3 separate regions of the Homo sapiens genome follow, and regions 1 and 3 are each linked to region 2. Evidence: fine-mapped expression QTL. A gene starts in region 2. Each other region holds a variant in brackets. All regions are shown on one strand. Distances are between the middles of the regions. Region 1 holds the start of LOC107986186 (a long non-coding RNA gene). Region 2 holds the start of CD38 (CD38 molecule). Region 3 overlaps CD38 (CD38 molecule).

Evidence for each region. PIP is the estimated chance that this variant, and not a neighbour inherited with it, causes the effect.
Region 1: its variant is fine-mapped to the expression of CD38 in whole blood (TOPMed, PIP above 0.99).
Region 3: its variant is fine-mapped to the expression of CD38 in subcutaneous fat (GTEx, PIP 0.97).

Annotation. Positions count from the first base shown.
Region 1 is chr4:15,751,883-15,760,070 of GRCh38, forward strand. It overlaps LOC107986186 (a long non-coding RNA gene), which reads right to left and starts at 4,544. Exons shown (of 2, transcript XR_001741393.2): 1 at 4,442-4,544; 2 at 2,189-2,659. It also overlaps a transcript of BST1 not described here. The variant T/A (reference allele first, on the strand shown) is at 4,830.
Region 2 is chr4:15,775,071-15,783,258 of GRCh38, forward strand. CD38 (CD38 molecule) reads left to right here and starts at 3,258. Exons shown (of 8, transcript NM_001775.4): 1 at 3,258-3,577. The coding sequence starts at 3,345. RefSeq lists enhancers at 3,043-3,685, 3,097-3,596 and silencers at 3,727-3,776, 3,967-4,016.
Region 3 is chr4:15,807,847-15,816,034 of GRCh38, forward strand. All of the region lies in intron 1 of CD38 (CD38 molecule), which reads left to right. Among named protein-coding and RNA genes, the nearest start is that of CD38, 34 kb to the left of the region's middle. RefSeq lists an enhancer at 4,466-5,185. The variant A/G (reference allele first, on the strand shown) is at 4,877.

The DNA.
Region 1 (8,188 bases), 23 kb before region 2:
CTTCTCCTTTGTGTATTATAACAATTTATTTCTTGCAACAACTCATGGCAGTGGGAACGTGGCTCGTATAAGACTAGAAAATGAATTATTGCCGTTTTATAAACATGCTAAGGAGATTTAGTTTTGCACTGAAAGCAAAGGAAAACCATAAAAGATTAAAAAACTTTGACAAGAGAGGTGTATGATCAGATTTGTGCTTTGATCATTAATTCATTAAACAGCTATCATTGTGTGTTTATGAGTTCCAGGTGTTCTTCTAAGTTCTAGGATCTATTCAGTAAATGGGCAATTGTGCATATGTTCTTGTAGTGCACATTCTAGTGGGTGGAGATAATAAATAGCTTGTATAAGGAATAAATTGTATTTTCGAAGGTGATGCATGCTCCAGGAAATAATACAACATGGAAAGCTAGGCTGGGGCTATGGTTTTAAATGAGAAGTCTGGATAGGCCTCATTGAGAAGATGATGTTTAAACAAAGATTTGAAGGAGTGAAGGAATCAAGCTATTCTTTTTTTTTTTTTGAGACAGAGTTTCGCTCTTATTGCCCAGGCTGGAGTGCAATGGCGCAATCTCGGCTCACTGCAACCCCCGCCTCCCGGGTTCCAGTGATTCTCCTGCCTCAGCCTCCTGAGTAGCTGGGATTACAGGTATGTGCCACCATGCAGAGCTAATTTTGTATTTTTAGTAGAGACACGGTTTCTCCATGTTGGTCAGGCTGGTCTCAAACTCCTGACCTCAAGTGATCCACCTGCCTCAGCCTCCCAAGCCATTCTTATATCTATAGAATGAACATTTCAAGCAGAAGGAGCAGAAGCAAAGGCCCCGTGGTAGCCATGTGTCTGAACTATTTGAGGAACGGCAAGGAGGCCAGGATGGCAGGATCAAGGTGAGGGAAGAAAATAGGCCAGATCAGGTCAGGCCTTGCAGGCTATTTCACTGGCTTTTTTTGGAATGAGATGGAAAGCCAGTAAAGGCCCACTGGAGAGAGGCTTCTGGCCACTGCACATTGATGCTGGTTGATAATGTAAATAGTACATATAAATCACTAAGAAGATATAAATCACTAAGAAGATAAAGTGATTTACATATAAATCACTAAGAAATATTTAAATATAAATCACTAAGAAATATAAATATAAATCACTAAGAAATATTTAAATATAAATCACTAAGAAATATAAATATAAATCACTAAAAAATATTTAAATATAAATCACTAAGAAGATAAAGTGGCTGTCCTCTTAGCATTTCATCTGGCAATATATCACCCTCCATCTTCATCTCTCTGATATAAATGTCATATCCAAAATACAGCACGCTGCATTCTTCTTCTAAAATTTCAGATTAGATATGTTCCAGCCTCTGTCTAAGCTGTCTCTATCTCTGGGGCTCAGATATGTCAGAGCTGATAGCATGGGACTTTCAGAAGTCCATTTGTGGGAGGGATTTTTTCAGATAAAGGCGGTCTGGAAAAGGGAGAAGAATTAGAAGGTATCCATCGTATCTGTAGCAGAGATTTTTTATGTATGTGTGTGCTCCTGTGTATACATGTAGAAACCAAACATCCTGAATGGCTCACGATCGCGCCAGTGGGTGTCCTTTGTCCTTGCATAATTATTAGTAGCATCCCTCTCCATTAGGTGAGCCCTAAGGAGAAAGAGTAGGGTCTTTAAGAATGTTACGAGACACAGAGCCACAAACAGTATTGGGATAGGACCCAGCTCTCAAAGTGTGGCCCAGCCATGGCACAGCTGGAGGTTCGCAGAGATGGTGCCCACCAAAGGCAATGATGGGACATACATAAACTGCCTTGCAGGCAGGGAGAGTCCAAATCGGTCAGGGCCCATCCAGACACACAGATAGCACACTCAAATCAGGAAAATCGGAGGAGGTTTAATAGGGACTATCTGCAAACCATTGATGTGTACAGAGATGCACCAAGGCCTCACAGAGTGAGGCAACAGGGAGGTCATGGGAATCCGGAAGGAGAGAGTCCCATGGAGAGGTCATCTGGAGAAGAGCAGTGGCCTCTGTCAAGGAACCCAGTGGCCTGAGGCAACCCTGCAGGGAGGAAGCCAGCTGAGGGAATGGATAACCGGACCTCAGTCACCTTCCTTCCTTTGGGAGAGCCTCCTGGGGCTGGATCCAGGGCAGAGAGCCAAAGGGAGAGGCTGGAAGATCTGGAAGGCCAAGTGGGGGGGTGTGAGGCCACAGCTTCTTCGTGTGTATCATCAGTGGAGATTGAAAAGAGAGGAAAACCACGATGGAGGCCTGTGGGACTGTGGGCAGCTTTTTCAAGTGCAGATGTGATAATCCCCACGAAGACCCCCGGAAATATTGAGAGGGAGGCTCTTTGAAAGGGGATGGTGTTCTGCAGAACAATAGAGGCTTCATGAGTCGCTAAAGTAGAGGTTGTGAGGATTAGTGTGACCCCATTGTGAAAACTGGCCTAAAAGAACCCAAGGAAACAGGGGTATGTTGAGTTCAGGAACATTGCAGAATTTCCAGATGTTCTCTGAAGCATGCACATGTCTAAGATTGTCTCCTCTCTAAGGGTTGTGTGCAGTTTCTTACCTTCTGTGAGCTGGCTGTGAACTCAGTGCCCCTGGGTGGTAGCAGAAGCATGAATGCTGAGAGGAAGGATGTTGCTGTCAGCACTGTGTGGTTTTGAATGAGATAAAGAATCAACGTCAGATGTAGCTGCACACATACTTTATTTTGTTGAATTTCCAACTGATGAAGTATTTGATAAGCATGCCTGAAAAGATGGAAAAAACGGGCTCTTTCCCAGCGGTCCATTTTTGTAATTTAAGTACGTAGATTTGTTTTAGTTTACATTTGGTGATTTTTATGTTATTTCTGAAAAGGTAGTATATACACATGGCTTAAAAATAAAACACTATGAAAAAATCTCATTCCCACTCCTGTCCCCTGTTCTGGTCCCACACCTCTAATTCGGATGACCACTTGTTTAAAGTTCATGTAGATCTGTCTAGGGTTTCTTTGCACAAGCACATACAAATACATGTTATTACTCCCTACCTTTTCTTACACAAAAGGAAGCATTAAACACAAAATACTTTGTACTCCTTAATAGTACATCCTGGAGATTATTCTGTATCAATACATACAGAGATCCCTCACTTTATTTTTTACAGCTGCATAATATTCCATGGGAGAGATGTTTTGTAATTTATTTAACCCACCCCGTTAGGAACATCATTTAGGTTGTTTGCAATCAGTTTCTCTTTTTTTTATTTTTTTATTTTTTTGAGATGGAGTCTCACTCTGTCGCCCAGGCTGGAGTGCAGTAGTGCAATCTCAGCTCACTGCAACCTCCGCCTCCCAGGTTCAAGTGATTCTCCTGCCTCGGCCTCTTCAGTAGCTGGGATTACAGGTGTGCACCACCACGCCTGGCTAATTTTTGTATTTTTAGTAGAGATGGGGTTTCACCATGTTTGTCTGGCTGGTCTTGAACTCCTGACCTCTTGATCCGCCCGCCTTGGCCTCCCAAAGTTCTGGGATTACAGGCATGAGCCACCGTGCCTGGCGCCAGTTTCTCTTATAAACAATGCTGCAATGACTAATCTGGTATATTTATTATCTTTCATGTGGGCAGAGATATTTGTAGGTTGAATTCCTAGAAATGGGGTCAGTGAGTCAAAGAGTAAATGCATTTGCAATATTAATGTATTCATTCTTCACTGGATCTCTGTAGTTTAGCAATGAATTGAACAACTGCATATTATTTATGGGTGAAAAGCCCCAAAGAAAAAAGAAATGCTGAGTCCAGATGTCACCTTCAGTCAATGTAGAGTGGTGGTTACCACCAGTGATGAAGGTCTTAGAGTGTTTATGCATCTGTGAGTGTGTGAGTGTGTGCTCATTTGTGTACTCTGAAAACCCTATTTGAAAAAAAAAACTTAACCATTGGGTTATTAGACAGATAATCACTTCACTCCAATTTCAAATCAATGAGTTTCTTATTCCAGCTTATATTCCAATAGTCCAAAGCTTCCAGGGAATAAAGGTAAAACAATCTGAGAGCTCTGAGTTCCTCCACAGGGCAAGTACCATGTAAACTGATAGATGATGTTAAGGTTCTCAAGGTGGTGACTAAACAGTTCTCCCAGTCTCTGCAACATAAACATAAACTTAAAAATTACACTGTAAGCTAGATCTTCATTTTGAAAATAACCATGGAATTTGAAAAAATAAAACTGAAACAAACAAAACACACCACCATGAACAACAAAAACAACAACAAAACAAGGGGGAAAAACCGACTTTCTGGTGTTTTTGCTAAAAGACTGCAGGGTGGGTTGGGGGAAGCTCTTCTCATAAAAGAAAAGTACTAGACAATCTGGTCTTTTAAAGGGTCTTGAAAACAGATTATGCAGTAAAACTGAGCTGTCAAAGACCCTCAGAGATGGTCGTACCTGGCTAGTCCTATGAAGCGCCCAGCTAGAGGAGAGTTTTCTTTCTCATTTTCAATCGTGGTTTGTGGTTAAAGATGTGCATGCCAATGGCAGGTCTGGGGGTGAGATGTGTTTGAAAAAACGTTGAATTTATATTTGCAGTACCAGCCAGACTCAGGAAGTGACACTCAACCACATTTTCCTGACCTGGGTGGAGATTAGTTGAGAGTGTGTTTGATAGGTTAACACATGTTGAGAAACATTTTGACATAGGACGTGTTGCATATAACTAGTTTTATGAAGATGATGTCCTTAATGGGTATATCTTCTATGAATGACTCAGGTCATCATCATAGACTTGGGTTATTGTAACATCTAGCAGGTATGTTGCGCTGTGGAGAGCTGTTTT[T/A]CCCCCTAGCGGCCTCGGAGGGTGAGGTTTGGAGTGCTATTCACATTTTTCTGTGCACTGGCTGTGCAATGGCCAGCCATATCTCTTTCCAAGATGCTCATTTGTTGGGGCTCAGGATGCACCACCTCAAAACATACTGTGGGAGACAAGATGTGCCACCCCAAAATACACTTCCTGGCATATTTCAAGCTGGTTATTCAGATACACTGCAGACGCAGGAGTATCTCTGAAAAGCTGCCCTTTGTAAAAGAAATGTATGCCTATTGTAAATTGAAAGTTAAGTTTCTTGTAAAAGAAATCTATATTAGTAAAACCATCTGTATCAGGAAGAGGGCTGTTCCTAGACAATTTTTATTACCTGAGATACTTTATTTGCATAACAAGACAAACTTTTATTCACCTTATATTTCCTCCCTCCCCTTCTCATAGCTTGTCTCTACCACCCTCAGAAGCCCCAAGCTCCTCCTATTCCTTTCTGTAGCTCAGGCTGCTATATAAGCTTCAATCATCTGGTCTTTCTTCAACTCTCATATTTTCGCGGGACCCCTGTGCCAACGTGTGTAGTTAAACATAGCTTTTTTTCTTGCTAATCTGTTGTGTGCTGATTTAATTCACAGCCATGCCAAAGAACCCAGGAGGGTGGAGGTAGACCATTTGGTTCTCCCTGCACGAACTGCAGTGTATTTTTTTGGGCCCAAGGTCAAATACCAGCTCCACTGTCCTAGTCCTGTGACCTTGGCTGAACAGAATAATGATCCTCCTGTCTATAAAGAGGACAAAAGCACACCCCCACCCCGCCCCGCAGACTGTTCTGAACAGTGGTCCCCTGTTAAAGAAAACTTCTCCTCAACTTCACTCCCTCTTCACCATTTCTTTCCATTAATATTACAGAGAATCCTTTATAGGGAATTTCTTTTAAAAATTTTATTTATTTATTTATTTATTTAGAGAAAGAGTTTTGCTCTTGTTGCCCAGGCTGGAGTGCAATGGCAGGATCTCGGCTCTCTGCAACCTCCATCTCCTGGGTTCGAGTGATTCTCCTGCCTCAACCTCCCAAGTAACTTGGACTACAGGCATGCGCCACCACACCTAGCTAATTTTTGTATTTTTAGTAGAGACAGGGTTTCTCCATGTTGATCAGGCTGGTCTTGAACTCCCGACCTCAGGTGATCCGCCCTCCTCGGCCTCCCAAAGTGCTGGGATTACAGGCATGAGCCACCGCGCCCGGTGGGATTTTCTTAAACATTAAATGTCTAATGTTTTAAAAACCCAATAACATCAGCATTTTTAATAACAATTTTTATTGTAAATTGACAATTTATAATTGTGTATATTTCTGGATACAACGTGATGTTATAATTTATAAATACAATGTAGGATAATTAAATTAAGCTAGTTAACATATCCATCATCTCAAATATTTAGCATTTTTTTTCAACTTTTATTTTAGTTTCAGGGGGTACATGGGCAGGTTTGTTACACAGGCAAATTGTGTGTCACTGGGGTTTGGTATACTAATGATCTTATCACCCAGGTAGTGAGCATAGTACCTGACAGCTGGTTTTTCAGCCGTCCCTCCCCTTCCGCCCTGTCTCCTCTAGTAGTCCCCAGCGTCTATTGTTTCCATCTTTATGTCCATGTGCACTCAATATTTAGCTTTCACTTAAACGTGAGAACATGTGGCATTTGATTTTCTGTTCCTGCATCAATACACTTAGGACAATGGCCTCCATTATCCTAAGCTACATCTTTTGCGGCTGTATCCATGTTGCTGCTAAATATGTGGAATACTATGCAGCCATAAAAAAGAATGAAATCATATCCTTAGCATTTTTTTGTCATGAGAACATTTGAAATTTACTCTCTTAGCAATTTTGAAATGTATGATACTGTTTGTTAACTATATTCACCACACTATGCAATAGATTTCAAAGAAACTTCCATATTCCTTCTGAGATTTTTGTACCTTGTTCATCATCTCCCTAACACCCTCACCCTCTAGCCTCTGTAACCACCAGTTTATTCTCTGGTTCTACGAGTTTGATTGTTTTAGATTCTTCATTTAAGTGAGAATATGCAGTATTATTTAAGATCATTTAATTAAGTTTTAGTATGTATAAAGTATTTGGCGTCAATGCCTACCTATTTCTATGGAATGAAACAGAACAAAACATTTCCCACCTGAACCACAACCTGCATGCTGGTGTTGTCTTCACTGCAGGTGGATTACGGAGCTATGGCCTACACACCTCAGTGCCTTTTGTAGGAAATCATGGCTAAGAGTCAATGCTTGGAATCAGGTGGACAGGCATCAAGTCCCATTTCCACCACACGTATCTGTGTGTCCTCAGTTAAGTTAACTGACCTCTGTCTGCCATAGTCAAAATTCCTAGTTATGTATATCAAAAACTATCTCCTGGTGTATATTACAGAATATTAGGAAGCTCAAGCATCTCAGGGACGGAGAAGGACTAAGGAAAGAGCCAAGAATAACATCCAGATTATACTACTGGTCCACTATGGAGCCCACTACCCAGATTTCTGGGCGAAAGAAGATGGATGTGCTGCTCAAGGGCTGACTGGTAGAACGCCCAGCAGTGGCACCTCTGAAAATGCTGTATTCACCACACTCAAGTTTTCAAATCTGTAAAGCAGGTATAGTAAGAATATTTACCTCATGGGGTTATTATGCAGATTTGATAACACTGTGTATAGAAAGACCCCAGTATGGTGTTTGGCACTTAGTAAATGCTCAGTTAATGTTTCTGCTCCATTTCCTCCTTCATTTTCTTCTACCTTAACTTCTCATCTATTTTCATTTTTCTTCTTTTTTCTTTCTCTAACTTCTTCCTCCTCCTGTTTTTCTCACTTCTTCACTTCTCTTCCATCCCCTTTCTTCTTCCTCATTCCTTATTTCTCTTCCTAAGAGTTGGTAAGAGGCAGCGTATGACTATTCTGCCAATGGAAACCATTTTCCCTGTTTCTGTAACAGGGGGTGTCATGGGGTACAGCACCAAAGAGCTACTATTTAGTTGGATATTACCATAAGTTAATAAAGGCTCAATACCCCGCTTTCTCCTTTACTTCCCCCCTCCACTCCCAGTATTTACCCAGTGGCATCAAATCTGGAATGGGCTATCTTCATATCAGAACCAGGAAAAATGGAAGGGAGTTACACCAGAAACCATAAACCCTATGTGAGGAGGGATTTTGTTTAACATCTTTTTTTGAGATCGAATTTACAAACATAAAATTTATCCTGAAAGTATATGATTTAGTAGTTTTTAGCATATTCAGTTTTGTGACTATCACACAAGTTTAGAACATTCCTCTCAACCCCAAGGAAACCCCATTCCTAT
Region 2 (8,188 bases):
ACTGATATCACTTATCTTCTCACATACTCTCCTAAACCTGCTGTGGGTGGGCTTTGTCCTCATCTTTCCTCTAAAATGATTCCTCTTGTCACTATCATCAATAACTTTCAGGGCACCCTTCCTCTTGTCTCAGGGATCATCCTTCCCAGTTCTCTTTGCTGAAGCTCTCTCATCTTTCTGGCCTCTGTCACAGGAGTAGCCCATGGCTGAGACTCTGAAACTCTTCTGTTTCTGCACACACTCTTCACATGATCTTATATATACACTCTTGGCTTTAAGAACTGTCCATATCTAAGGTCTCCCTTATTAGTGTCTCCAGCATTAATCCCTTGCCCAAACTCCAGAAGCTTATACCCAAGTGGCTCCTTGATGCCTCCTGTTGGGGGTCTAATAGACATCTCAAACTTAGCACATCAAAAACCAAATTCTTGATTCATGCCTCTTCCCAAGACCAAATCTACTTCACCTCCCGTTTTCCCATCACTGTAGATTGCAGTGCTTTCCTTCCTTTGGTCAGTTACACAAATAAAAAATCTTGGCATCATCTTTGACTCATCTCTTTCTTGCAAATGCTACATCCAATTCATCAGCAAATCCTGCTGCTGCTACCTTCAAACTCTATTCAGAATCCATCTTTTTTTTTCTTTGCCACCTTCATTACTGCTACTACAGCCATTGTAACTGTTCTCCATCCTTATCCTCCTACAATTTATTCTTAATACCAAAGCCAGATTGATCCTTTAAAATAATATGCCAGATCAAGTCATTTGGTGACTTGTATGGGTAAAAATAAAATGCACACGAATGGGTTAAAAATAAAATCCAAAAACAGGCACATAGACCAATGAAACAGAATAGAGATCTCAGAAATAAGACTCACATCTACAACCATCTGATCTTTGACAGACCTGACAAAAACAAGCAATGGGGAAAGGATTCCCTATTTAATAAATGGTGCTGGGAAAACTGGCTAGCTATACGCAGAAAATTGAAACTGGATCCCTTCCTTACACCTTTTTCAAAAATTAACTCAAGATGGATTAAAGATTTAAAATGTAAAACCCAAAACTATAAAAACCCTAGAAGAAAATCTAGGCAATACCATTCAGGACATAGGCATGGGCAAAGATTTCATAATGAAAATGTCAAAAGCAATTCCAACAAAAGCGAAAATGACAAATGGGATCCAATTAAACTCAGGAACTTCTGCACACCGAAAGAAACTATAATCAGGGTGAACAGACAACCTACAGCATGGGAGAACATTTTCAAAATCTATCCATCTGACAAAGGTCTAATATCCAGAATCTACAAGGAACTTAAACTAATTTATAAGAAATAAACAACCCCATTAAAAAGTGGGCAAAGGACATGAACAGATATTTCTCAAAAGAAGACATTTATATAGCCAACAAACATATGAAAAAAAGCTCAACATCATTGATCATTAGAAAAATGCAAACCAAAACCACAATGAAATATCATCTCATGCCAGTCAGAATGGTGATCATTAAAAAGTCAATAAACAACAGATGCTGGTGAGGTTGTGGAGAAATAGGAACACTTACACTGTTGATGGGAGTGTAAATTAGTTCAACCATTGTGGAAGACAGTATGGGGATTCCTCAAAGATCTAGAACCAGAAATACCATTTGACCCAGCAATCTCATTACTGGGTATATACCCAAAGGAATATAAATCATTCTGTTATAAAGATACATGCATGCATATGTTCATTGTAGCACTATTCACAATAGCAATGACATGGAATCAACCCAAATGCCCATCAATGACAGACTGGATAAAGACAATGTGGTACATATACACCAGGGAATACTGTGCAGCCACAAAAAGGAACGAGATCATGTCCTTTGCAGGGACATGGATGGAGCTGGAAGCCATTATCCTCAGCAAACTAACACAGGAACAGAAAACCAAGCACTGCATGTTCTCACTTATAAGTGGGAGCTGAACAATGAACACAGGGAGGGGAACAACACACACTGGGGCCTGTTGGGGAGAGTGGAGGGAGGGAGAGCATCAGAAAGAATAGCTAAAACATGAGGGGCTTAATACCTAAGCAATGGATTGATAGGTGCAGCAAACCACCATGGCACACATTTACCTATGTAACAACTCTGCACGTCCTGTACATGTATCCCAGAACTTAAAACAAAATAAAAAAGATAAAAAATAAATAAAACACACAGTCCAAAAAGTCATCCTGTCTTACAGAGCTATGGGTGATCTGGTCTCCTGCTACTTTCCGAACTTCTGTTCTGTTTCCCTCAACCCTCTAGCCTAACTACAATTGGCCTCCTTGCTGCTCTGGAACAGGCCAAGAGCTTTTCTGCCTCAGAGTCTTTGCACCTGCCATTTCCTCTGCTTGGGAAATGTTTGCCCCAAGGGAGTTGGGTGACTTGATCGCTCACATTACTTAGGTCTCTGCTTGAATGTCACAGATGTTCTCTTAATAAAGAAGAGGCAAGAAAAGCCACTTTATTATTTATTAAACTCCCGCATAGAGTGCAGTATTATTACTGTGTGCCAGACCCTGCTTCAAACACATTCCATGGACTATAAAATTGCATCTCTGAGCAGCTCCTAGAGCTGGTAGTAACAACTTACATTTACTGGGTGATTACCATGTGCCAGGTATTGTGCTAAACACGTTGTAGATATTAACTCACTTAATCCTCGTAACAATCCCATGAAGTAGGTACTGCTACTATCCCGGCTTTACATCTGAAGTACAGAGAGGTTAAGTAACTTGCCCCATGTCATCCAGCAAGAACTAAATTTGAACCCAGAGCTTAGCCACTGATGCCTCTTGAGAGAAGGAGTCAGACTTAAGTTGAGTCTTTAAAGGTGGTTGACCAGGCATTTGTCAGAGTTAAGAAAGAGAGGTAGGACATCCTTTTCCAGGCAGAGGGCATTGTGTGCACACACGTATAGAAGCAGGCAGCCCACCCTCATGCTTTCCAGGAAGCAAATGTGGCTCAGGTGTAAAGTGCCCGGTTGATGAAGGGAGTTAGCGGAGGGAGTATAAGGATGTACTGTCTGCCCCCTTAGGACACCTGCAGAGGATTAAGGTGGCTGTTTCTCCCTGGAGGTGGAGTGGGTGGGTCACTGCACAGGAGCCTATAGTTGTTGGTCTTTTAAACTCTTATTGGTGTAACCAGCCACGGAACTCTGAGGCAAGGGGTTGGGGGTGGGAAGGGAAACAGAGAAAAGGCAAGTGAAACAGAAGGGGAGGTGCAGTTTCAGAACCCAGCCAGCCTCTCTCTTGCTGCCTAGCCTCCTGCCGGCCTCATCTTCGCCCAGCCAACCCCGCCTGGAGCCCTATGGCCAACTGCGAGTTCAGCCCGGTGTCCGGGGACAAACCCTGCTGCCGGCTCTCTAGGAGAGCCCAACTCTGTCTTGGCGTCAGTATCCTGGTCCTGATCCTCGTCGTGGTGCTCGCGGTGGTCGTCCCGAGGTGGCGCCAGCAGTGGAGCGGTCCGGGCACCACCAAGCGCTTTCCCGAGACCGTCCTGGCGCGATGCGTCAAGTACACTGAAATTCATCCTGAGATGAGGTGGGTTGGCGACTAAGGCGCACCGGTGGGCACTGCGGGGACAGCAGGGCCCCGCGCGCAGGGAAGCCGCCCGGATCGCCCGGAACCGGGCATCTTCCGTGGCGGGTCAGCCGAGAGCCCGCCGGGTGGTGCTGAGTAGGGAGTCCCGGGCTCGGGGCTCCGCGGGCCGCTTTCAGGAGCAGCTGGCCTTGGCACCGAGCGTGCCCGCGGGAGGCGGGGGGGGGCGCTGCTCGGTGGCTCTGCTGCGTAGCCGGTGAACACTTGGCACCGATGCCCGCCTTCTGGGCAAGGTGCCCTGAGCCCAGCCCCTCGCCGGGCTGCAGCCCACCCTCGGCGCGCTCAGCCCGCTTCACCGCTTCAGGGACGGAATAGAACTCGCAGATGCAGGGTGTCGCTGACATTTTCAACTTTTTCTGCGGTTTCCGCCCGCTGTCTCTGACCCGAAAGTGCCCCCGGACGGTTACAGAGGACACTTAAGTGGTTTGCAAAGCCTGTGGTAGGGGAGGAGGGTGTAGAAGGGCCAAACCACGGAACTTAGTTTTATTCATTTATATAAAGCAGCACTCCGATTCTTTTTGCGCGGCCTGAAATGCATGTGACCAGAGAAGTAATTAACAAAACAATGTCAACTTCTAAAACCGAGACATTACTTAGATGATAAGGCGCAGCAACTCGGTGAATCTGTACAAACCTTGGAAAAAAAACACATTAGTCTATGGGACCTTCCAGTTTTCTCATGCTCCTTTCCAGCTACTAACCTCTCCTAAAGGGAACAACCACTTTTTGGATTTGATTCCCAGGCCTCGCTTTCACCGGGAAATTATCGTTGCTTGTAAAACAGAAGAAGCCGGGAAGGCAGGCAGGGGGAGCTGCTACTTTACACTCTGTGCTTTGGGATAGCAAAATCCCGCATTTAAGCAATCCGAGGAAACGAGCAAATAGACCTCCCTCGCCTCTCCGAGCACACTCAACAGTTCCGGTTGCAAAATGTTTGCCTCCTGGGCTTCCCAGCGTCCCGTTAGTTGTTCTATTTACACATAATTAGATACTTAATGGAGAGAGAAACTAGAAGTTGAGGCGTTCCTCCAGGCTGTATTGTAAAGTATGAAGTGAAATCCAAAATGAAATGGTAATGTTAGAAAGCAACCTCATTAAAAAAAAAAAAAGTAACACTGGTCTTGAAGATCTTTCAATGTGAGTACATAAAGATCTATCTCATTTCTTTTGACAGCCCATAGTATTTCATAAACTAGATGTAACCATTTCCTATTGACAGGAAATTAGCTTGTTTCCAATTTTTCAATCCCATTCATTCATCCAACAAGTATCTGTTGAGCACCCACTATGTTCCAGACAGTGATCTAGCTACTGATGACACAAGAGTGAATGACGAAGTTCTCACTCATGAAATTTTCACCTTAGTTGGGAGAAACATGATGCAATGAAAATCTTCATACATACATTGTGTGTACATATGGGAGTATTTCTGTAGGATAGATTTCTAGTGATGAAACTGCTGAGTAAAAGGGAGAATTATGCATATTTTAAGTTTTGATTTTTCCAAATTCCAGGTATTCCATATATACTCCAAAATAGTTGTGCCATTTTACTCTCCCATCATCAGTCTATCAGAGGGGATGCTTTCCCACAATCTCTTGAATGCTGAATATTTTCAACTTTTTTACTTAAGAGAAAAAAGAGCATCTAATTGTTCCCTCAGTATCAGTGAGTCTAAGCATCTTGTATATGTTTATTTGCCATTTATATTTTTTTCTGTGATTTTCCTGTCCAGATACTTGATACTTTCTATTGAGCTGCTTATTTATTTCTTATGGGAGATTTTTATATATTTTAGATAATATTCTCTCTCTCACACACACACACACACACACACACACACACACACACACACACACACACATACAGTCTTACAGCCACATCCCTGAAATCTTGACCTTGTGAACATGTTTTACTGGCAGCACTCTGGACTCGATCATTGCCTTGAGACTATTTCTTTTTTGATATTCTTTGGAAAGACTAACAATGACAGTTTTATTTTCAAACCCAACAAATCCTGGCATGGAAATGTTTGCTCTTGATTCTGCTTTTAAAAAAATAAAGAATTATTTTCTCTCTTTCTTTCTGCACCTTATCAGAAACAGCTAAAAGAAGTGAGTTGGGCCAGGCACTGTGGCTCACACCTGTAATCCCAGCACTTTGGGAGGCCCAGGCAGGTGGATCACTTAAGGTCAGGAGTACAAGACCTGCCTGGCCAACATGCTGAAACTCCGTCTCTACTAAAAATACAAAATTAGCCGGGTGTTGTGGCGCGTGCCTGTAATCCCAGCTACTCTGGAGACTGAGGTGGGAGAATCGCTTGAACCCAGGAGGAGGAGGTAGCACTGAACCAAGATCCAGCCTGGCCAAGAGAGTAAGACTCCGTCTCAAAACCAAACCAAACCAAACCAAAAAAAGAAGTGAGTTGGCACTTTCAACATTCTGCCTGGAAATCTCCTTACCAAACCTATAAGATCATTAGGTATATTTTCTGCACTTTGTATTGTGACAGGTGACAGTGTTACCAAACTTTTTACCAGGACATAATAGGGTCTGCCTTTCTTCTAGTTGCTAACAATTTCCCCCAAGTCCATCTTGCCTGCACTAACAGTCTCCTTTAGACCTCTCCTCTCCTGCCTGTCACACATTCCTAGTACTAATGCTACAGTATAGTAGTAAGGGTCTCCAGAGAAACAACATTTATATAACATAATATAAATACATTAATAGAGAGAAAGAGATTTTAAGAAATTGGCTTATATCATTGTGAAGTCGGGCAAGCCCCAAATCTGCTGGACAGGCCAGCAGCCTGGAGACCCAGGGAAGAGTTGATGTTGCAGCTGGAGTCCAAAGGCAGTCTCTGGCAGAATTCTCTTTTACTTCTGGGACCTTGGTCTTTCTCTTAAGGCCTTCAACTGATTGGATGAGGCCCACCACATTATGAAGGGTAACATGCTTTACACCGAGTCTCCTGACTTAAAATCTAAAAAATACCTTCACATCACAACTAGATGTGTTTGACCAAATATCTGGATACCATGCCTGGGCGAATTGCCACTTAAAATTAATCATCACGTACATGTTTTAAGGTTTTGTTACACAAGACCTCACTTCCAAGTATCACTTTCTGTTTTGGTCATCAGTTGCTGCATAATAAACAACCACCCTAAAATTTAGTGACTTAAAACAACAATCATTTATTGTCTGCCATGGTTCTGTGGTTTGACTGGGATCAGCTGAGTGGCCTGTTTCACTTGGTGTCAGCTGGGGGTGTAGGCATCTGCAACATTGTCTTGGCAGGAACATCCAAGATGTCCCACTTAACACGATGGCTCCTGGGCTCAGCTGGGCTGGTCAGGCCTCCCTTCCTCTCTGTGTTGCCACACGGCCTCTCTCTATCCATGTGGCCTCTCCATATGGTCTCTCCCTGGTGGAGGTGAATTTCTTCAAGGTTTCTAAACTCTCAAAAGTGGAGCCTGGCAAGCCCACTCAAAGCTTCAGATCCACAACTGGCACAGCTTCCCTTCCACAGATTCTATAGGTTAAAACAATCACCGGACCAGCCCAGATTCAAAAGAAGGAGAAACAAACTCCACCCCTCCATGGAGGAAGTAGCAAAAATAATGTAGACAGTTTTTACCCTTTACATCTGGATTTGTTAGCTTTTCTGTTTTCATTTTCTTCTGGTCTTTCTTTTGTCCTTCTCTTACACTTATTTTATTACCTTTTATCAATTAGCTTTTAAGATGATAAAAATCTAATACATGCCTCCTGGAATGTCTTCTTGAGCCTAGGGACTTTTGTTTAATGATATATCTTGAGGACCTAGAATAGTGCCTGAAATACAATAGTCATTAAATATTTAGCTGAATTAAATGAATGGTATATAAGCCAGGGTATTAAAAATAACATAAACAAAGTTGTAATAAATATACTTCCCCAGTGAACGACCTAATACCATTACTCCCCAAACCCTCAATTTCTGTCTTGAGCATAGAAACTGTTAATTTTTCCTTTGTGTAGTAGGTCCTTAGTATTTCTTTAGAGGTTGTAGCACTTTATCTTCCTCACTGTTCCTTTTCCTTGGTTGTCCTTTTCCAAACATCTCTCAACAATTTCTCCCAAGTCCATCTTGCCTGCACTAACAGTCTCCTTTAGAACTCCCCTCTCCTGCCTGTCACACAGTCTTAGTAATAGTGCCACAGTATAGTAGTAAGGGTCTCCAGAGAAACTCACTTTCTGCAAGTTTTTTAGTGTGGGTAGGTGAGTATTGAAGCTTGTTCTTGGCGTTACCAGGTTGGTTCTTTGAGTTGAACCAGGGGCATTACATGCGGAATATTCCTGAACAGATCACCTCTGGTTCTGCTGTCTCAAGGGCCACACACAAGAGCTGCCTTCTGACCAAGATGTCTCTGGGCACATGAGACCTGAAATACACATGGCCAAGACTCAACAAAGCGTTTGCTGACTGTCAGAGCTGACAGCATCTCGGTACTGTGGGAGGGAGCCCAGTGTCTGGTGATAGTCAGGACGGACCCAGGTGATGTCAGGGGT
Region 3 (8,188 bases), 33 kb after region 2:
AATCCGTGAGGCATGATTCCCTGGAAGATCATGTAAGCTGTACAATTCTCTATGGAATAAATTGGAGACTTCATCCCTTAGATCCCTTTGACTGTGTGAGGAACCCCACGAAACCTCACTTAGTGACTTTATTCATTCTTCTGGGCCTGAAAGCATATGTCTCATGCAGGAAGGAAGGCAGGACCAGTGGGGCTTTGCAGGTTGTGCCATTCTCTCCTTGCTTTGCTTGAGACTCTTTATTACCTGTCTCCCTGACATTATTTGTAGTGTGATTCTGGGTGTGTTCTGTGATTCTTGTGACTAGGTATCCAATTTTGCTTAAGGATGCAAGGAAGTGTTTGGGGAGAAAGCTCTATTGGAAGAGGTCTGTAGTCCTAGCCTCCCTCCCCACCCCACATTTCACATCATTAGACCTCAGCACATGGGTCTGGGGCACCAACACTGTCTTACCTGTTACACAGTGTGGTCTTTATCTGGATGAGGGATGCGAAAGGATACATTGTGACCAAGAGACCTGGGAGAGGCACAAAAATAACAGGTGACCACCAAGGGTGCTTGGACCTGAGATGTTTCCATTTCCTAAGACCCTCCAAGATTCTCCAACATTTGGTATAGTTGCCCAGGCAATTTAACAAGAAAATCAAATTTTTGTTATGACCCCCATTGTAATTTATGCTTATCGCAGAAAAATTGAGACTATAAGAAGGAGAATAGAAGGTCACAAAACCACTCTATACTAGTCCAGGGATAGCTATTCTTACAACATGGATTGATCAGTGTGGGGTGATTTCTCCTAGTGTTTTTTGGACAGAGAAGCATTGAAGATGCCCTGGTTTTAAGGTCTTAGGATGAAGGAATTATAGTTGAACAGTTCAAAATGATGTTATGAATTACTTTCAGATTTGTTTGCTTGATTGCATTAGCCTTGCCTGGCCCTACGGTAACTATTTGGTTCCATCATGGTGGCTGAGTAGGTGGCTCTGGAAAAAGAGCTATTCAAGAAAAGCTTTTCTTTCTCTAAAAATATTGTAGGGGGCTCGCCCTCTGTTCTTGGAAGCAACGTTTGGGATGGCCTCTTGGGAGGCTGTCTGGTGAAGTGTCTAGGGGTATGTGGTCTGGACTTGGACAGGACAAGATGCAAATTCTGGCTGGGATATTCTAGTTGTGGAGTGTTGGGCAAGTTACTTGGTCTTCTGAGTTTATAGGTAAACTGGAGATAATAGGTATGTGTGAATGAGGATCCAATGAGATGCCTGTAAAACACTTAGCCAGATGGCTGCGTGAAGAAAGCACTTGGTAAATGCTAATTGTTGTGGTTGTTATAATTAGTACAATGATTAGTCATTGCTGATTGTTGGCTAACTGGCGGTAAGAAATGAAAGTAAAGTAAGGCAGTAGCAGCTGAGGGAGGTGGTGGAGGGAATCAGGAGACACTTGGAGGTTCTGGTTCTGCCTGAGTTTAAGTGCTGGGGAAAACTAGTTGAATAACTGCTGGTCTAACATTTAACAGCTGTGTGACCTCGGGCTAGTCACATTTCCTTTATAAACTTCCTTTTTCTCATTTGCGAAATGAAGGGGTTTCGTTAGGTTACTTCTCATCACCCCTGGTTGACCATTAGAATCGTTTGGGAGACCTTTTTAGAAATTCTTGGTTCTGGGGTCTTCCATTTTCCCCATTCTCACTTGGTGGGTCTGAAAGCAGGCACTGCAGCTTTTCCAAAGCTCTTCAGGTGACCTTGAAGTGTGGCCAGGGCTGAGAACCTCTGACTTCCAACAGCACTTCTGGTTTAGGAAGGAGCAAATCACCGGCACAGAATGAGCTCTCAGGAACGGCTGCTGAGCTAGTAATTGCCGTGACACTGTCTCCCTGTCCCAACTGCAGGCACCCCTAGACGTCTCCTGATGAAGACTTCCAATTTTGGAACAGAAGAATCTTTGAAAAAAATATTATTGAACTTCCAGAAATGATTCATTCCTTCTCTGCTCCTTCTTTAGTTGGAAAGATCTGCCCCCATCCCTGTCTACTGCAGTCCCAATCCCTTTTTATTTCAACATATATATCCAAACCAACAAAAAAATTGACTCGCACAACCAAGGTGAGGTGTTTGGCTTTAAGGATAAAATAAATAGTTTCATAAAACCTGCCCCCAGATTTCTCATTGCCTCTACTCATTTTCTCTAATTTGTAGGGCACACTGAAAGCTCGGATTCATAAGATGTAGAAAGGGCAGAGAGTTAAGTTACAAACTCTTCCTAGGTCTGTTTCAACTCTAACGTTCTATAGCTCTGCTCCGTCTAAACAAGGAATTCTGTTAAATTTGTAACCTGGACTTTCTTGAATACTGAGGTAATGTTTCTTGAAGTAGGATATATATACCCAAGAAGAATAAAAATAATTCTGGAGGTGTCTTAATTCTCTGTGGGACTCAATAAAAGTTTTGGTGATTATATATAAACACACTTATGAAAGCATCTGGTACATGTAGGTGCTCAGTGCACATGAATTTCTCTTTCCTGCCAGATCTTTTGTAGTGGAAAATTATCTTATTCTTCCATCTTTGTCTGCAAAGATGCTGCTAAGGAAAGATGTAGAAGAGTTTTACAAGGGAGTTGGAGTATGGGAACAGGAAGTTCCCAAGAAGGCCACTGCATTAATAGAATTGAAACAAGATCCCCTAAAGGAAAATCGCTGCCAAATCTCTTTTCTCTAAACTATCCAAAATGGTGCCCCATAAATTTTCATTGACATTGAAGTACATAATGTAATAAGCTTTTTTTTCCTTAAATATATAATGTACGGAGAAAACCAGGTTGATAATGGTTTCCTGGCATAGCTTTCAAAGGCAAGTGTGGATGAAGTGGAAATATGGTGCACAGATATTGGAAAGAAACCGCTGTTGAACTCTTCACATTTTCATGTATAACCCAATGATTCTCAAACCTAAACTTGCATCAGAATTGCCTGGAGGGCTTATTAAAACATGATTGTTGGATGCCACCCTTGCATTAATTAATTACACCTGCAACTGTTCTATTTTTAAATGGTCACATTTTAAGGTACTGGGCTGAGGACTTCATTATGTGAGTTTCAAATGGGACATAATTCAACCCCTAGCCCAATCCTAGTGAGTGGTGAGTGGTATCTCTTCGTTTTGATTTCTACTTCCCTAGTGACTAATGATGTTGAGCATTTTTATGTGTGTTTATTAGCCATTTTTATATCTCTTATGAAAAAATGTGTATAAAATTATTGGCCCATTTGTTAATTGGGTTATCCATTTATTATTGAATTATAAGAGCTCTTTACTACTCTGGATGCAAGTCCTGAAACAGAAATAATATTTACAAATATTTTAATCCATTCTGTGAATTTTATTTTCACTTTCTTGATGGCGTCCTTTGAAGAACGTAGGATTTTAATTTTGATAAAGTGTAATTTATGTATTTTTTCTTTTGTTGCTGTGCTTTTGGTATCATATTTAAGAAATAATTGCCTAATCCAAGGTTATGACAATTTTTTATTCTATGTTTGCCTCTAAGAATTTTCTAATTTTACCTTTTATATTTAGGTCTTTCATTCATTTTGAGTCAATTTTTGTATATGGTGTAAAGTATGGGTCCTAATTTATTCTTTTGCATGTGGATATCTTGTTGTCCCTGCACCATTTGTTGAAAAGTGTTGTTTTTTTTTTCCCATTGAATGGCCTTGGCACTCTTGTCTAAAATTAATTGATGGTAACTGTAAGACTTTATTTCTGGACTCTTTATTCCATTGATCTATATTTCTATCATTGTTACTGAGCAATGTGCTTGCTGCCTGACAGATAGGGAAGCCAATATTATGGAACTGGTTTTTGAGAAAAGCAAAAGCTTTATCGTGAGGTTGACTTGCAAGGAAACAGGATGCAAAGCTCAAATCTGTCTCCCCTTCTGGGATCTGGGACAAGTTTTATGGGTTAGGGAGGGCAAGCTGGTATGCAGAAGCACTGGTAGGGCAGGTTTCAACTGGAAGTACTTTAAACAAGACCATTTATGGTAAGGTATGGTAAGGGTCTTAACACTGGACATGCCTGGGCTCAGGTTTCTTGCTTTTAAAAATGTTTGGGCCCTCAGGTTCCAGTCATGTCTTGACCATTTTCTTCTGTGGTGGGGCAGGAGAGGAATTTTTCTTCTGGGTGTTATTCAAGGTTGAGGTCTTCTTTTCTGCATTGCTTCGGCTGCATGACTTAACAACTTTTTGACTTTGTGCCTGTTAAATAACTTGACATACTATTATCATCAGAGTAGGGCCAGTTAGAACTGGTCCTGTGATTACATCATTATGCCAGTACCAATTATCTTGATTACTGTAGCATTGTAGTAAGTTTTGAAATCAGGAAGTTTGTGTCTTTCAACTTTGGTCTTCTTTTTCAGGATTTTTGGCTCTTCTGTGTTCCTTACATTTCCATATGAATTTTAAGTTAAACTGTCACTATCTGCAAAAGAAGGAACTGGGATTTTTATAGAGATTACATTGAAGCTGTAAATCAGCTTGGAGAATACTGTCATCTTAACAATATTAAGTCTTCTGGCCGGGCACGGTGGCTCACGCCTGTAATCCCAGCACTTTGGGAGGCCGAGGCGGGTGGATCACGAGCTCAGAAGTTCGAGACCAGCCTGGCCAACCTGGTAAAACCCCGTCTCTACTAAAAATAATAATAATAAAAAACTGGGCATGGTGGCATGTGCCTGTAATCCCAGCTACTCAGGAGGCTGAGGCAGGAGAATCATTTGAACCCTGGAGGCAGAGGTTGCAGTGAGCCGAGATCGCACCATTGCACTCTAGCCTGGGCAACAGGGCGAGATTCTGTCTCAAAAAAACAAAAACAAAAACAAT[A/G]TTAAGTCTCCTGATCCATGAATGTAGAATGTTTTTCCATTTGTTCAGGTCTTCTTTACTTTGTAACAGTGTTGTGTATTTTTCAATGTTCCAGTCCTGTAATTCTTTGTTATATTTACTCCTAAGAATATTAATTGTTTTGCTGCTATTATAAGTGGAATTGTTTAAATTTTGATTTTATATTTTTCATTGATAGTATATTTTTCATTGATAGTATACAATTGATTTTTGTACACTGATTTTGTAACCTGAAACCTTGCTGACCATGTTTACTCGTTCTAACAGTTTCCTTTTTGTGGATTTCTTATAATTTTCTATATACAGTATTTCATGTCATCCATGAAGGGGATAGGTTTACTTCTTCTTATCTAATCTGGATGAGTTTAGTTTATTTTTCTTACCTAAATTCCTTGGCTAGAACTCCAATACAATGTTGAATATAAGTAATGAAATCAGACATCTTTGGACTGTACTTGATTTTAAGGGGGAGCATCCAGTCTTTTGCCATTATGTATAATGTTAGCTGTGGGGTTTAATAGATGAATTTTATCAGGTTGAGGAAATTTTATTTCTAATCTGCTCAGTGTTTTTTTCATCACAAGAGTGTTGGATTTTGTTAATATTTTTGTGTGTCTATTGAGATGATCATATGGTTTTTGTCATTCTACAAAATACAGCACATTAAATTGATGGATTTTTACATGTTAATTTTTTTTTAAATTTTACTTTAAGTTCTGGGACACATGTGCAGAACGTGCAGGTTTGTTACATAGGTATACATGTGCCATGGTGGTTTGCTGCACCTATCAACCTATCATCTAGGTTTTAAGCCCTACATGCATTAGGTATTTGTCCTAATACTCTCCCTCCCCTTGCTCCCCACCCCCGCCGACAGGCCCCGGTGTGTGTTGTTCCCCTCCCTGTGTCCATGTGTTCTCACTGTTCAACTCTCACTTATGAGTGAGAAGACGTGGTGTCTGGTTTTCTGTTCCTGTGTTTTTTAGCTGAGAATGATGGCTTCCAGCTTCATCCATGTCCCTGCAAAGGACATAAACTCATTCTTTTTTATGACTGCATAGTATTCCATGGTGTATATGTGCCACATTTTCTTTATTCAGTCCATCATTTATGGGCATTTGGGTTGGCTCTAAGTCTTTGCTATTGTAAATAGTGCTCCAATAAACATATGTGTGGATGTGTCTTTATAGTACAATGATTTATACTCCTTTGGGTATATACCCAGTAATGGGATTGCTGGGTCAAATGATATTTCTGGATCTAGATCCTTGAGGAATCGCCACACTATCTTCCACAGTGGTTGAACTAATTCACACTCCCACCAACAGTGTAAAAGCATTCCTATTTCTCCACAGCCTCACCAGCATCTGTTGTTTCCTGACTTTTTAATGATCGTCATTCTAACTGGCGTGAGATGGTATCCATTGCGATTTTGATTTGCATTTCTCTAATGACCAGTGATGATAAGCTTTTTTTCATATGTTTGCTGGGCACATAAATGTCTTCTTTTGAGAAGCATCTGTTAATACCCTTCGCCCACTTTTTGATGGGGTTGTTTTTTTCTTGTAAATTTGTTTAAGTTGTAGACTTAGGATATTAGATCTTTGTCAGGTGGATAGATTGCAAAAAATTTCTCCCATTCTGTAGGTTGCCTGTTCACTCTGATGGTAGTTTCTTTTGGTGTGCAGTATCTCTTTAGTTTAATTAGATCCCATTTGTCAATTTTGGCTTTTGTTGCCATTGCTTTTGGTGTTTTAGTCATGAAGTCTTTGCCCATGCCTATGTCCTGAATGGTATTGCCTAGATTTTCGTCTAGGGTTTTTATGGTTTTAGGTTTTACATTTAAGTGTTTAATCCATCTTGAGTTAATTTTTGTATAAGGTGTAAAGAAGGGGTCCAGTTTTTGTTTTCTGTATATGGCTAGCCAGTTTTCCCAGCACTATTAATTAAATAGGTAATCCTTTCTCCATTGCTTGCTTTTGTCAGGTTTGTTGAAGATCAGGTGGTTGTAGACATGTGGTATTATTTCTGAGGTCTCTGTTCTGTTTTTGTTTTTTGTTTTTTGTTTTTTGTTTTTTTTTTTTGAGATGAGATCTCGCTCTGTTACCCAGGCTGGAGTGCAGTGGCACGATCTCGGCTCACTGCAACCTCCGCCTCCCTGGTTCAAGCAATTCTCCTACCTCAGCCTCCTGAGTAGCTGGGATTACAGGCATGTATCACCGCGCCTGGCTAATTTTTGTATTTTTAGTAGAGATGGGGTTTCACCATGTTGGTCAGGCTTGTCTCGAACTTATCACCTCATGATCTGCCTGCCTCAGCCTCCCAAAGTGCTGGGATTACAGGCGTGAGCCACCGTGCCCGGCCAAGGTCTCCGTTCTCTTTCATTGGTCTATATATCTGTTTTGGTACTAGTACTGTAGTTACTGTAGCCTTGTAGTACACTTTGTAGTCAGGTAACGTGATGCCTCCAACTTCGTTCTTTTTGCTTAGGATTGTCTTGGCTATACGGGCTCTTTTTTGGTTCCATATGAAATTTAAAGTAGTTTTTTTCTAATTCTATGAAGAAAGTCAATGGTATCTTGATGGGAATAGCATTGAATCTATCAATTACTTTGGGCAATATGGCCATTTTCACAATATTTATTCTTCCTATCTATGAGCATGGAATTTTTTCTATTTGTTTGTGTCCTTTATTTCCTTGAGCAGTGGTTTGTAGTTCTCCTTGAAGAGGTCCTTATGTCTCTTGTAAGTTGTATTCCTAGGTATTTTATTCTCTTTGTAGCAATTTTGAATGGGAGTTCACTCGTGATTTGGCTCTCTGCTTGTCTATTATTGGTATATAGGAATGCTTGTGATTTTTGCACACTGATTTTATATCCTGAGACTTTGCTGAAGTTGCTTATCAGCTTAAGGAGGTTTTGGGCTGAGACGTTGGGGTTTTCTAAATATACAATCATGTCATCTGCACACAGAGACAATTTGACTTTCTCTCTTCCTATATGAGTACACTTTATTTATTTCTTATGTCTGATTGCCCTGGCCAGAACTTCCAATACTATGTTGAACAGGAGTGGTGAGAGAGGACATCCTTGTCTCGTGCCACTTTTCGATAGGAATGCTTCCAGCTTTTGCCCATTTAGTATGATATGGGCTATGGGTTTTTCAGAAATAGCTCTTATTATTTTGAGATATGTTCCATCGATACCTAGTTTATTGAGAGTTTTTAGCATGAAGGGATGTTGAATTTTATTGAAGGACTTTTCTGCATCTATTGAGATAATCATGTGATTTTTT